3 separate regions of the Homo sapiens genome follow, and all the other regions are linked to region 1. The links come from fine-mapping of genetic effects on gene expression. A gene starts in region 1. Each other region holds a variant in brackets. All regions are shown on one strand. Distances are between the middles of the regions.

The links. PIP is the estimated chance that this variant, and not a neighbour inherited with it, causes the effect.
Region 2: its variant is the best candidate, but not a certain one, in a credible set for the expression of NCS1 in tibial nerve (GTEx, PIP 0.61).
Region 3: its variant is the best candidate, but not a certain one, in a credible set for the expression of NCS1 in whole blood (TOPMed, PIP 0.57).

What each region holds. Positions count from the first base shown.
Region 1 is chr9:130,170,810-130,175,017 of GRCh38, reverse strand. It overlaps NCS1 (neuronal calcium sensor 1), which reads right to left and starts at 2,614. Exons shown (of 8, transcript NM_014286.4): 1 at 2,291-2,614. The coding sequence starts at 2,354. RefSeq lists enhancers at 340-1,250, 2,712-3,500 and a silencer at 2,548-2,637.
Region 2 is chr9:130,198,723-130,202,930 of GRCh38, reverse strand. NCS1 (neuronal calcium sensor 1) reads right to left here. Exons shown (of 8, transcript NM_014286.4): 2 at 1,949-1,973. Among named protein-coding and RNA genes, the nearest start is that of NCS1, 28 kb to the right of the region's middle. The variant A/G (reference allele first, on the strand shown) is at 2,394.
Region 3 is chr9:130,084,514-130,088,721 of GRCh38, reverse strand. It overlaps GPR107 (G protein-coupled receptor 107), which reads right to left. Exons shown (of 18, transcript NM_020960.5): 7 at 2,246-2,302. Among named protein-coding and RNA genes, the nearest start is that of GPR107, 33 kb to the right of the region's middle. The variant G/A (reference allele first, on the strand shown) is at 1,759.

The DNA.
Region 1 (4,208 bases):
GTTCCACGTCTCCAAAGGCCTTTAAAAATAGCCCAGCCCAGCACCACAAGGGCCAGTTCCTAACAAAGCTTTGTTGACTCAACTTCTCTTAAAGTTGACAGATCTGCCCGGAGGAGGGGGCCGGACAGGACTATCACCCCAGGCCCTTCCCATTTAGAATCCACCATCATGGGCTTCTAGCAAAAGCCAGAAAAAGACACCCAGCAGAGCTTTTTTTTTTTTTTTTTGGAGACAGAGTTTCCCTCTTGGAGCAATCTCACCTCACCGCAACCTCCGCCTCCCAGGTTCAAGCGATTCTCCTGCCTCAGCCTCCCGAGTAGCTGGGATTACAGGCATGTGCCACCATGCCCAGCTAATTTTGTATTTTTAGTAGAGATGGGGGTTTCTCCACGTTGGTCAGGCTGGTCCACCCGCCTCGGCCTCCCAAAGTGCTGGGATTACAGGCGTGAGCCACTGTGCCTGGCCCAGAAGAGCTCTTGGCACGAGCTCTGAAGTCTCTCACTAGCCTTGGAGCAGGACAGACCGGAGTTCAAGTCCTGGCACTGCCTGGTCACTAGCTGTGGGATCATGGGAATGCCACTTTGCCCCTCTGAGCCTTAGTTTCCCCATCTGTAAATGGAGATCGTAGCAGCACCCAGCCTGGTAGAGCAGTTGTGGCAGAGTCGAGGTGCTAATGATGCCAAGAGCTTGGCACGTGACATGCTCGATGAGCAGGAAACCTGGCTTCACTCCCCTGTCCCACCATGATGGAGGCATCCCGTGCAGCCCATGCCCACCACTCCTGATGGAGCCCACGGTGTCCTCACCCTCCCCCGGCACAGGGACCCAGGAAGTCCACCTGCTGGCGGCTGTGGGCCACATCTGGACTTAGCTTGAAGGAGTCCCCAGCGAATCTCACAAAACAGCAGCCAGACTGGAATGGGCCACCCACCTGCCCACCTTGGAGAGAGGGTGAGAACAGCCCCTGTGCCCAGGGGCTTCACCCCTTCCAGGTAGCAGCTCTTGGGATGTGAGCTCCATGCTGCAGGATTCCACAGGAGAAGGGCCAGCACCTCGCAGCAGACTAGCACCCGCTCAGGAAAGCCCCCTTTGTTCCAAGCATGAGGGGTGAGGGGCATGGAGCTGAAGCGTGGGCTTGGACAGACCTGCAGACGTGCCCAGAAGGCCGATGGAGTGGGGGGAAGCGGGGAGCAGAGGTTGTGCAATGCACCACCAGGAGCTGCCTCCCCAGCCTCCATCAACACATGGGGCTGGCGGTCAAGCTGCTGCCTCCAGGGGTGGTGCAGAGGGCCTGGGCCCACGCAGCTGCCCGGGGATGGGTTCTGAATTCCAACCCAAGCCCAGAACCACTGTCCCCTTCCAAGTCAAACACCCAGGCAGAGGTCCTTCCAGACCCCGATGCTGAAGCCTTCCCTCTGGCAATCCCCTGGGTGGTCTGGACCCATTACCATTAACCCCTGGTATGCCAGGGCACCTCCGGAGAGGCTGCAGGGAAGGGGGAAGCCTGGTATGGAGAAACTAGGACTGCAAGGGGACTGCAGAGTTGTGAAGTTAGGCAAGTGGAGGGAGACACACTGAGGCTGATCTGGAGACGCCCAGAAAGGACAGGCCATCCTCCTCCGGGCAGCCCGCGACAGCTAATGATCACACGCGGCCCAGATGACCCGGGCTGTAGAAACCCACTTCCCGGTGTGGCAGACAGAGATGGGGCCAGGGAGAATCCAGCCTGTAAGTGCTGCAACCCACAGGGTGCCGGGGACCCTTCACCGCCGTCACCGCACGACGAGCGCTGTGCCAAGTCTCGCCACCCCCCCCCCCACACGAACGGGGCCAGGGAGGGGGCGACAGGCCAATCTCGCAGCAGCGGCGGCGGCGGCATCGTGATGCATGAATCACCAGCCCCGCGCGCTCGTGCCAGTCGGCTCCGCGCAGCCGGGCGCCCCCTCCCGGGACCACCGCCCCACCCTGGCAACAGCCCCTGCCCGTTGGGACAGCTCTGCGGAGAGGGGGCCGCCAGGGGGCTGGGGCTGCCCCTCCGGACCTAGGGGTGGCGCCGCGCACGCCGACCGGCGCGCACTCCCCGGGCTGGGGGTGCCAGAACAATGGGGCCGGGCGGGGGGCAGGGGCGCGGCCCGGGAACCTCCGAGGGGTCCACATTGGAGGCCGGGCGGGGAGGACGGAGCGGAGGCGGCAGCGCGGAGCGGGTAGCGCGCGGGTCCGGGGGGCGGGGGCGGGGGCGGTGGGTGTGGGGGTGACCGCGGGGCGCGGGCTGGGGGCTGGGAGCACTCACAGTAGGTCTTCCTGGTCAGCTCCTCCACAACTTCGGGCTTCAACTTGCTGTTGGATTTCCCCATCCTCGGCGGCCGCGGCCCCCGCCCCCCCGGGCCGGACCCGGTTGGGGCGCCCAGCAGGAGCGGCTGGGCCGGGCGGGCCGGGCCGGGGCCGCGCCTTTGTCTGCGGCGCCCGCGCTGCGCTGCGCGGCTGTCGGCGCCGGGGCGCCCGGGGCGTGGGGCGGCCGCTGGGCAGGCCCGGGCGGTCCGGGCGCCGCGGCGCGGGGCTGCCTGGGCTGGGCGCCGGCGCCGGCGCGGTGTGGCCGCGGTCGTCCCTGGTTACTGGGCTCCGCGGCACATGCTCGCTGCTGCCTCCCGCCTGCCGCCGCCCCTGCGCTCCCCGCCTCCCGCCTCCCCCCTCCCGCCCGCACCCGCGCGCCAGGGGTGGACCCGGAGCCGCCACTCAGCGCCCGGCGCCACCTCCCGCCCCGCACCCGCCTGGCCGCGGCCTCCGCCAGCTGGACCCCGGCCTCGCCAGCCAGCCGGAGGGGCGTCCCCTCGGCTCAACGCGGCCCCAGGGCGGGGCAGCCACCCCCGCCACCCCCTCCCCGAATCCAGCCCTGGCGCTCCGGCCCCCGCCGCGGCGGGGAGGGCCCGGAAGATCGGATGTGAATGAGGCCAGGTCCCGGCCCGGAGACATTCATTCATTCGACACGGATTCATGGGGTGCCGGGGACACGGCGGCCCACGGGACAGGAGTGCCCCAGCCCTCGCAGGGCGGGCAGGGGGCTGTGCGGGATGCGGCAGGTAGCGGTGGGAGCACCTACTCTCGGCCTGGGGGCAGGAGACCTCCAAACCCAGGGTCAGGAAGGGAGGTGGATGGAGAAGCGTTCTGGCCCAGGCAACCTGGAGAGGCGGGGAGGCCTGCATGCCCGAGGGAGAGTTCCCCGGCTTGCGGGCTTGCGCACGGCTGCAGGCACAGGGGACCTGGGAGAAGGGCAGGGCCCACGGGGCAGGCCAGGAGAGGCCCCTCGCCGAGGAGCTGGGCCCCTGCCCACCAGCGCCCATGAAAGGACTTCAGCAGAGAGTGATGGGTCAGAGCTGCTGGAGTGACAGGTCAGAGCTGCTCAGAGCTGTTTCTCTGAGCCGAGGCTGGGGTGACAGGCTCCACCTGAATGGACAGAGGCCAGTGGATTCGCGTAGGGGGGTGTGGTTCAGGTGGTAGGTCCAGCATGGCCTTCCCGGTCCACCTCATCCAACATATCATCATATCTTGAGAACTCTCCTATCCTTTTCGGCTTTAGTTTCTCTCCTTCACATCCATCACAAACGTCACCTATGTTTTCTGCATCCTGTTTGTCTCTTCCATGGGAGAACACCCTCCCAGAGGGCAGAGGCATCTCCATAACCCAGAAGGCCGCCTGAGGTGTTACCCAGCAAATCTCTGTGAATGAGCGAAGGACGGAGGAAAGAATGACACCCGGTGCTGGGGCCCTGGGGTAGGGGAGAGAGCGGGGAGGATGAGGCAGCCCTCCCCGGGGCTAGCAGGGATGAGGCAGGAGTGGGGTCTCTTTCTCCCTTCTTTCCACAGTGTTCTAACCTCGGAGGGTCCAGAAAGCTCAGAGGAACCCTGAGCAGGGCCGAGTGCCTTCCAGCTCCCAAATATCTCTCCTGCCTCTAAGCATACTCCATCCACTCCTGCTTTCCCCTGAAGCCCCTGCCCAGGCTGAGCCCCAGGCCCCAGGAAGTCTTCAGATGGGGATGGACTTGCTGGCTTGGGGAGCTCATTCTGCAGAGGAGGTGGGCCCAGTTGGAGGGATCTGGTGTAGACCTGGGAGCAGAATGTCCCAACCTTGAGGACCAACTCAGAGTGGACAGCAGTGAGGGGCCCACAGTGGGGGGCTAACAGTTGACCAGACTGTGCTGAGCATCCTGCCT
Region 2 (4,208 bases), 28 kb before region 1:
GGAATGATGAGCTCTGTTAACCCCTAGTACTGCTCCCAGAAGTCAATGGCAGGCCACGTGCAGTGGCTCACTCCTGTAATCCCAGCACTTTGGGAGGCCGAGGTGGGTGGATCACTTGAGGTCAGGAGCTCGAGACCAGCCTGGCCAAGATGGTGAAACCCCGTCTCTACTAAAAATATAAAAATTAGTGGGGCATGGTGGCACACACCTGTAGTCCCAGCTACTCGGGAGGCAGAGACAAGAGAATCGCTTGACTCTGGGAGGCGGAGGTTGCAGTGAGCTGAGATCATGCCACTGCACTCTAGCCTGGGTGGCAGAGCGAGAGACTCCAACTCAAAAAAAAAAAAAAAACATGGATTTGAAGCACCAAGGACGATGCCTGTTGGGGGCCAAGCACCCACTGTGGCCAGGCCCTAGGGACACAACATGGACAAGGCCAAGCTAGCCAGCCCTCAGAGTGCCGACAGGATGCAGAGAGGGACAAAATGCTTACCTGCTGCCCAGTAAGTCATCGGCTGTCCCAGGGAGGCACAGGGCAGTGGGAACTCTGACAGAGGCCTGGGGGGTTTCAGGGGGTGGGGGGGAGGGGCGAGGAGGTAACAGCCCAGCAGGCAGAGGGAGCAGCCTGGGCAAACATCAGGAAGCCCCGGAGACAAAGGTGAGTTCAAGGAACAAACAGCAGTTCAGGCTGGCCAGAGGGTAAAGGGCAAAGGCCAACAGGCAGAGGACGCCAGACTGCAGGGGTCAACAGGGCCAGACTGAACCAGGCCTCGTAAGCACATAACCATGTCAAGGGTGAGGACTTCACCCTGAGGTCTGGGGAGGGTGGCAGACGCCTGGCATGGTCAGGTTTTTGTTCAGCAAAGACCCCTCTGGCTGGCGTGTGTGAAGGCAGGGAGAACATGTACGGATGGGGAATCTAGGGAGGTTTCATGGTGGAGGCGACTTGGGCTGAGCCTTGGGAGGGGCAGAGTTCAGATGGCCCAGGAAGGAAGGCGGGCATTCCAGGAAGCAGAGCCACATGGGTGAAGATCTAGAAGGAGGGTGTTTCTAGGGCACTCACCTGGGGAAGTGCAGAAGTGGAAAGTGAGGGCGGAAACTCAATCCCAGGATGGGGCACCTCCCAGCAAGGGCTCAGCAGAGCCAGGCGGGCCAGCATAGCCCTGCCCCATCTGCAGCTTGGACTTGAGGCAGGGAGGTGTAGGGAGTGGCCCTGGAGGCTCCTGGGGGGTGCCCGGCCCTGCCAGACTTGACTGGAAAATCTCCAAGCTCATTGCCTCATGTCCCTACGTGCCACCCCTACAGCTCAGCCACCTTACATGGTGAGCCTCCTGTCTGCTCCACATTCCACAAAGACGGACAATACACCGCCCTCCTCCCCCAGGCCCAGCCCTGGCACTGCTCATCCATTACAGGCCCCACTTATCCCTCACTGCCGCTTTTCCATTTGCTCCATGACGTACGGCCTCGGAATCCTTATCACGGCCCTCCAGGCAGCTACGACAGATTGAATAGAGCTGGCATCCAAGAGCAAACCCATTTGCCATCCCTGATCCAATCGAATCGATCATTCTATAGAAGGGGTGACGGAGCCCCAGCGAGGGGAAAGGACCTCTCAAGGTCATAGAAGGACTTTCTTATCCAAACCCTTCTCTTTGGTGAACAGGGCCTGGAATCAACCCTTCAGGCCTTGGTGGTCCCTAAAGATGCAACTCAAAGCAAGGACCACCAACAAACACCCCAGCGCCACCCCCAACCCAGTTCCACTGAAACCACGTCAGTCCCGCAAGGACAAAGGCCACTGAACAAAGGCTGTCTGGACCCCACGCTCAGGGGCCCCTCCACATGCCCCCATCCTGAGCAGCTGGACTGCTGTCCCCATCAGCCCACAGCCCACAAAGCCCACAGCCGCAGCCCCTCTACGGTTTGAGAAAAAGCAGCTACTCACCACTGCTGGACCTCCTTCTCGGTAACTGCAAGAGAAAGCAGAAAAGTAGGCTTTTAGCTCAGGGAAGGTGTCCCGGGAGATGGGCAGACATTCGCTGGGGGGCCTCCCCTCCAGCCCTCCCCTCCCCACGGCCATGTCCCCGGGCAACGGCCTGCTCTGGATGAGAAAATGCTCCCTTGGTGAGCAGTCCTAGCCAGGGGCTCTGTACCCACCACCCCAGCAGGGGACACTGGCCCCACCCCTTCCCGGTGCCCAAGTGCTACCTGCCACTGCCACTGCCGCTGCTGGGAGAGCCCCCAGGAACGCCCTGTGGCACTCAAGGGTTTGCTTCTCCCACAGCCCTTGCTCCCAGGCCAACATCTAAGACTTACTCGTTGCCATCTCTCAATCCCTGGGGACGGGATGTCAGGGAAGGCCCTGGCTTCCCCAGGCACTCGGCTGCCCC[A/G]CCTATGTGGGGGGGTGGGGGGAGCTAGGCTGAAAAGGGGCAGCTCTCAGCAGAAGGGTGGACCACCCTCCCTGTCAGCCTGTCCCTGCAGCCCCTCTCTGTGGTCAGCCCGGGCTCTTTCACTGGCAAGACATGAACAGAGCCGTGAAGCAAAAGCTGAAAGAGGCTACAGAGAGCGGCTGAGCCTGGAGCCAAGCCCACATACCCATTCTTTACTGAGCCATGAAACAAACAAAAATGCTTTTTCTGAAAAGTACAGAATCGTTTCAAGTTGGAACCAAATCAATGTTCTCTCTAAAGTCACCGAACAAGAACACCAAACCACCACCAAGGCCACCCTTGCTCCCTGCCTGTGTGAGCGCGGGACGGCTCCTCCTGCACTCCCTGCCTTGGGCGCCTCATCCATAAAGTGGGCATCATATTATCAGCACCTGCCACACAGACCTGTTGTGGGGACTCACTCATAAAGGCATGGAAGCTACTGGATCCCTGGGGATGTCAGACACCTGGAAAGGCCAGGCCTGGCGTCAAAGAATGGAATTTTCCAAGAGAAAGTTTTGGCAAAGGGTACGGCGTAGGGCCCTCAAATGTGCTCAATACTGGTTTGTGGAATGAATGAATGAATGAATGAATGAATGAACACATGAACAGACAGGAAAGGGGTGTCAGGTGGAGGTCAGATGAGTAAAGGAACTAGAATCTATTCCCAGGGAAGTGGGAAGGAAGCCCAAAGAGGTGTCTCTGAATTGTTTGTGCCTGACCAGACTTGAGGAAGCCACTTTTCAAAAACCACTCAAAGCAAGCTCGCAACAGCTGCCAAATACCAAGAGCCTGCCGCAAGCCCGAATCTGCGCCCAGGGCGGGCCTCTGTGCTTTAGCTCAACGGCTCTTATGACAGCATGGAGGGAGGATGGCACAACTCTGCCCCAGCTCCAAATGTGGAAACTGAGGCACAAAGAGATCAGGAAGTGGCAAGGCAAGGGCCTGACCTTAGGTCTGTGGCTCAGAACCAGGCAGCCAGATTCCTGGGCAGGCTAGATGCCTCCATCCCCGTGCTGGTCAGCACTCTCCTCCCACAAGCCCAAATCAGAGATGGAGGAAGAGACCTGTCTGCAAGCAGGCCTCAGATAAAAAGAGAGGAGGCAGGTCAGGCACGGTGGCTCACGCCTGTAATCCCAGCACTTTGGGAGGCCGAGGCAGGCAGATCACAAGGTCAGGAGATCGAGACCATCCTGGTTAAAGCGGTGAAACCCCATCTCTACTAAAAATACAAAAAATTAGCCAGGCATGGTGGCACGCTCCTGTAGTCCCAGCTACTCTAGAGGCTGAGGCAGGAGAATCGCTTGAACCCGGGAGGCGGAGGTTGCAGTGAGCCAAGATCACACCATTGCACTCCAGCCTGGGTGACAGAGTGAGGCTGTGTCTCAAAAAAAAAAAAAGAGAAAGAGAGAAAGAGAAGGCAACAGCGGGAGATGCCAGTTACCCAGAAACACCGGGCCTGGAGTCAAAGAAAGCAATTTTCTGAGATAAAGTTTTGGCAAAGGGTATGGGGCAGGAACGGGTTCAGGATTCGGCATGGGGGTGGAGAGGGAAGGTGTCCTTGGTCTGATCCAGGCTGGCTGCCTGTGATGGCAGCTGTGATGGCAGCTGGGGCTGTGGGGCGGATGCTGAAAGCCCAAACCTGGAGACACAGGCGACCCATCACAGTACCGCCAGGAGCTCAGGGCCACAGGTGCTAAAGCCAGACCAGACCGCCTGGGTTCAAATCCGGCCCCACAGGGCACTGTGTGTCCTTGGGCAAATTGCTTCCCCTGA
Region 3 (4,208 bases), 86 kb after region 1:
CAGGTTACATTACCTCTCTGAGCACAGTTTCTCATTGGTAAAAGAGAAAAAATAACAATACCGACTTCACAGAGTTGTTTAGAGGATTAACTGAGATAATGACATAGAAGCACTTAGCACAATGCCTGGTATTGGTTCATTAGTCTCTATAAATATAGGCCCAAGGCCAAGATCAGGAGTTTCATATACATCAATAATAAGAGACAGAAAACCCCTGCCCTTAAGGTATCTTCTGTAGAGGGGGAGACAGGCAATAAACATAACTAAGTACAGTATACAGCATGTTGGAAGTGATAATACTAAGGAAAGACAGAGCACAATGAGGGAAATAGGAGTGAGCTACAAACAAGAGAAGCTTTGTTGAGAAGGTGACATTTCAGCAAAGACTTACGGAATTCTGAGAGACAGCATTCCTGCCTGTGGGAACAGCGAGAGCAGAGCCTAAAGCCTGATCTGTCCGAGAAAAAGCAAGGCGGCTTGTGTGGGAGAGCAGAGTGTGAACAACAGGAGCTGAGATCAGAGAGACAACAGGGGCTAGACCACATGGGCCTTGCAGACCAGTGGGAAGACCTGGGCTTTACTCCAAGACAGATGGAAAGCTGTTGGAGGGTTCTGAGCAAATGAGCACCCTGCAAGTTCTCAATAACCGTTAGCTATTAATAAGGATGGCGACGAAAATGATGGTTACTAAGCTTAAAGAACATACAAACATTGTTGAACAGGCAAAATGATCCATGGAAAAAGAAATCAGAACAGTGCTTATGGGGATAGAGGGGCTTTCGCAGAAGATGGAAACACAGAAATATTGAGACAGTGAATTACATGGGTATATATGCATTTGTCAGTACTGAACAAACCGTATACTTAAGACACGACCTGTGCATTTCACTGTAGGCTTTTTTTTTTTTTTTTTTTTGAGACAGGGTCTCACTCTGTCACCCAGGCTGCAGTGCAGTGGCATGATCGAGGTTCACTGTGTGAACCTTGACCCCCCAGGCTCAAGTAATCCTCCTGCCTCAGCCTCCCTAGTAGCTGGGACTAGAGGCACATGCCATCACACCTGGCTACTTTTTGTAATTTTTTTTAAGAGATGAAGTTTCACCACATTTCCCAGGATAGTCTTGAACTCCTGGGCTCAAGTGATCCTCCCACCTTAGCCTCCCTAGTAGCTGGGACTGTAAGCATCTACCACCATGCCTGGCTAATTTTTGTATTTTTTGTAGAGATGTTTCACCATGTTGCCCAGGCTGGTCTCAAAACTCCTGGGCTCAAGCAATCCGCCTACCTCAGCCTTCCAAAGTGCTGGGATAACAGGCGTGAGCCACCACGCCCTGCCATTTTTTATTTTTAGATGATTAAACAGTGAGGTTCAGAAAGTAAGTGAGACCAGGCAAGGTGGCTCACATCTGTAATCTCGGCACTTTGGGAGGCCCAGGTAAGAGGACTGCTTGATCCCAGGAGTTCAAGACCAGCCTGGGCAACAGAGCAAGACCTCATCTCTACAAAAAATTTAAAAATTAGCCAGGTATGGTGGTCTATGCCTGTAGTCTCAACTACTTGGGAGGCTGAGGCAGGAGGATCACTTGAGCCTAGGAGGTTGAGGCTGCAGTGAGCCGTGATTATACCATTGCACTCCAGCCTGGGCAACAGAGTGAGACCTTGTCTCAAAAACAAAACAAAAAGAAATGAAGTGAGGTGTCCAATACACCCAGCTAGTAAGTGGGTTCTGAGGCCCAGTCCAGTATCTTGTTCCCATAC[G/A]TATGCTATTATGCTGCCCCTAAACACTCATGGGCAATTAATAACTCTGACAGCTAAGCAGGTCACTCAAAGCCTCTGAGTCTAGGTGAAATCATCTCTAAAATTACAACATCACCGTAAATCATCATCAATGGTCCTTTCAGAATGGGGTACTATGCTTCTGGCACACTTTGAATGGGAGGTAGCATGGGATTGGGGCAAAGGGGTCATGGGAACAGCCAGGCAGGACTGGGTTGGAAACTGTACCGTGTCACCTACACTAGATAGTCACAAAGTTATTCACTCTCAGAGACTTCTGATTTGATAAGTAGATGGGTAACAATATCCACCTTGTGGGCTTGTTATAAGGAGAGCTACTGCATTTAAGTGACTGATACAGGGCATACCTAAGTTGTTATTCCTAAATTCAAAATTCCTCTAAAAAAAAATTACCCTTTTACATGGTAGAGAGAAATTCTAGGAGGCTTTACACAAAGAGCATACATACCTGAAATGACACTGCCCCACCATTATTATGAACAGAAAAGGATTTCTCTCCCATGGCCTAAAAAGACATAATAGTATGTTTTAGGATGACACCGGCATAGAAGCATGCTAATTAAAAGTAATTTATTAAACAAAACAAAACATGTTTCTTAAACTCTAAATTTGCTGACCTTCAAAAAAGCTCTCTGAAAATAAAACCAACTATCCTTTCGAGATGGCTGAAATCTGCTTTCACAGAGAATGGTAGTTGTTCTTCACCTGTCTCTTCTGCCTCTGCACTAACCCCTACCTCCACCCCCTGCCTTGAATCTTTCGGCTAGACAGCTTGTCTACCCTTGAAGCTTCAGTCAGACTAAGGGTGCTGACCCAGGCCATGCCCTGTTACATCCCCTGAATTCCACTCCTGACATCAAATGACCAAAATATTGGCCAGGCACAGTGGCTCACGCCTGTAATCCCAACATATTGGGAGGCCAAGGTGGGCAGATCACTTGAGGTCAGGAGTTCAAGACCAGCCTGGCCAACAAGGTGAAACCCCATCTCTACTAAAAATACAAAAATCAGCCAGGCGTGGTGGTGCGTGTCTATAATCCCAGCTACTCCGGAGGCTGAGGCAGGAGAACTGCTTGAACCTGGGAGGTGGAGGTTGAGATCGTGCCACTGCACTCCAGCCTGGGTGGTAGAGCAAGACTGCGTTCCCCCCGGCAAAAAAAAAAAAAAAAATCAAAATATTGCCATTTATACAGTAAAACTGAGCAATGAAAAGAAATGATACATGCAACAATGTGGATGAACTCAAAGTAATTATGCTGAATATAAGACAGAAAAGAGTGCTGCATAATTCAGTTATATGAAGTTCTATAAAACTAATCTATACCCCAGTGACAGATCAGTGATTGCTTGGGGACAGGGGGCTTACAAAAAGGCAGAAGAAATTTTTGGGGTGATGGATATTTCACTACCTTGATTGATAAGTCAAAGTTATCAGATTGCTGCTTTACATATCTACAGTTTATTTTAGGTCAATTATACTTCAACAAAGCTGTTAAGACAAAACATCACCATTTAGATGTCCCCCTCATGGAGAAATCAAGATATCGCCAACCAAAACTTTCCCAGTTTTTCCACTTCTGCTATTTCTACGACCCACTCCTCTGCTCCTCTCTTTCCCTCCCATGACCCTAACTGGCTTCCCAGTCGTTTACCATCCAAGGCTCTGCTCTAGTCCAGATCCTCATCACCCGAAACCTGTATTCTCACAACTGTGTCCTTCCTGGTCCTTCTAACAACCCTTTCTCCTTCTCCAAGGCTACCCTTCACGTCACTTTCAGAATTATGATCTTTAATAAACAGTCTTTCCCAATCAGGAACTCAGGATGACTTCCCGTAGCCTGCTCATCAATTCCTCTATTGCTTGGCCCTATATTATCTAAGACCTCTCTCTGCTCCCAAATATGTGTCTTTTACTTCAAACGAGCCAGTGCTCAGCATTTGTCATCATCCAGTCTTTGCGTATGGCATTCTTCCTCCCCTCCCTTGTCTTTCTCTTCCCTGAACAAACTCCAGACTCAGCCCCGGCGACAGCTCCTTCCAGAGGGCTTTTCTGATGGTTTGGCATCTTCCTTCCCTAACTACCTGATCCTACATCATGTAAGTGCTGTGCAACTTAGAAATCAATTTTCTTTTCCTTTTTTTTTTTTTTGAGACAGGGTCTCACTCTGTCACCCAGGCTAGAGTGAAGTGGCACAATCATAGCTCACTGTAGCCTTAGCCTCCCAGGCTCAGGTGATCCTTCCACCTCAGCCTCCAGAACAGCTGCGACCACAGGCGCATACCACCATGCCCGCTAATTTTCTATTTTTTGTAGAGATAAGGTTTCGCCATGTAGCCCAGGCTGGTCTTGAACTCCTGGGCTCAATTAATCCACCCACCTCAGCCTCCCACAGTGCTGGGATTACAGGCGC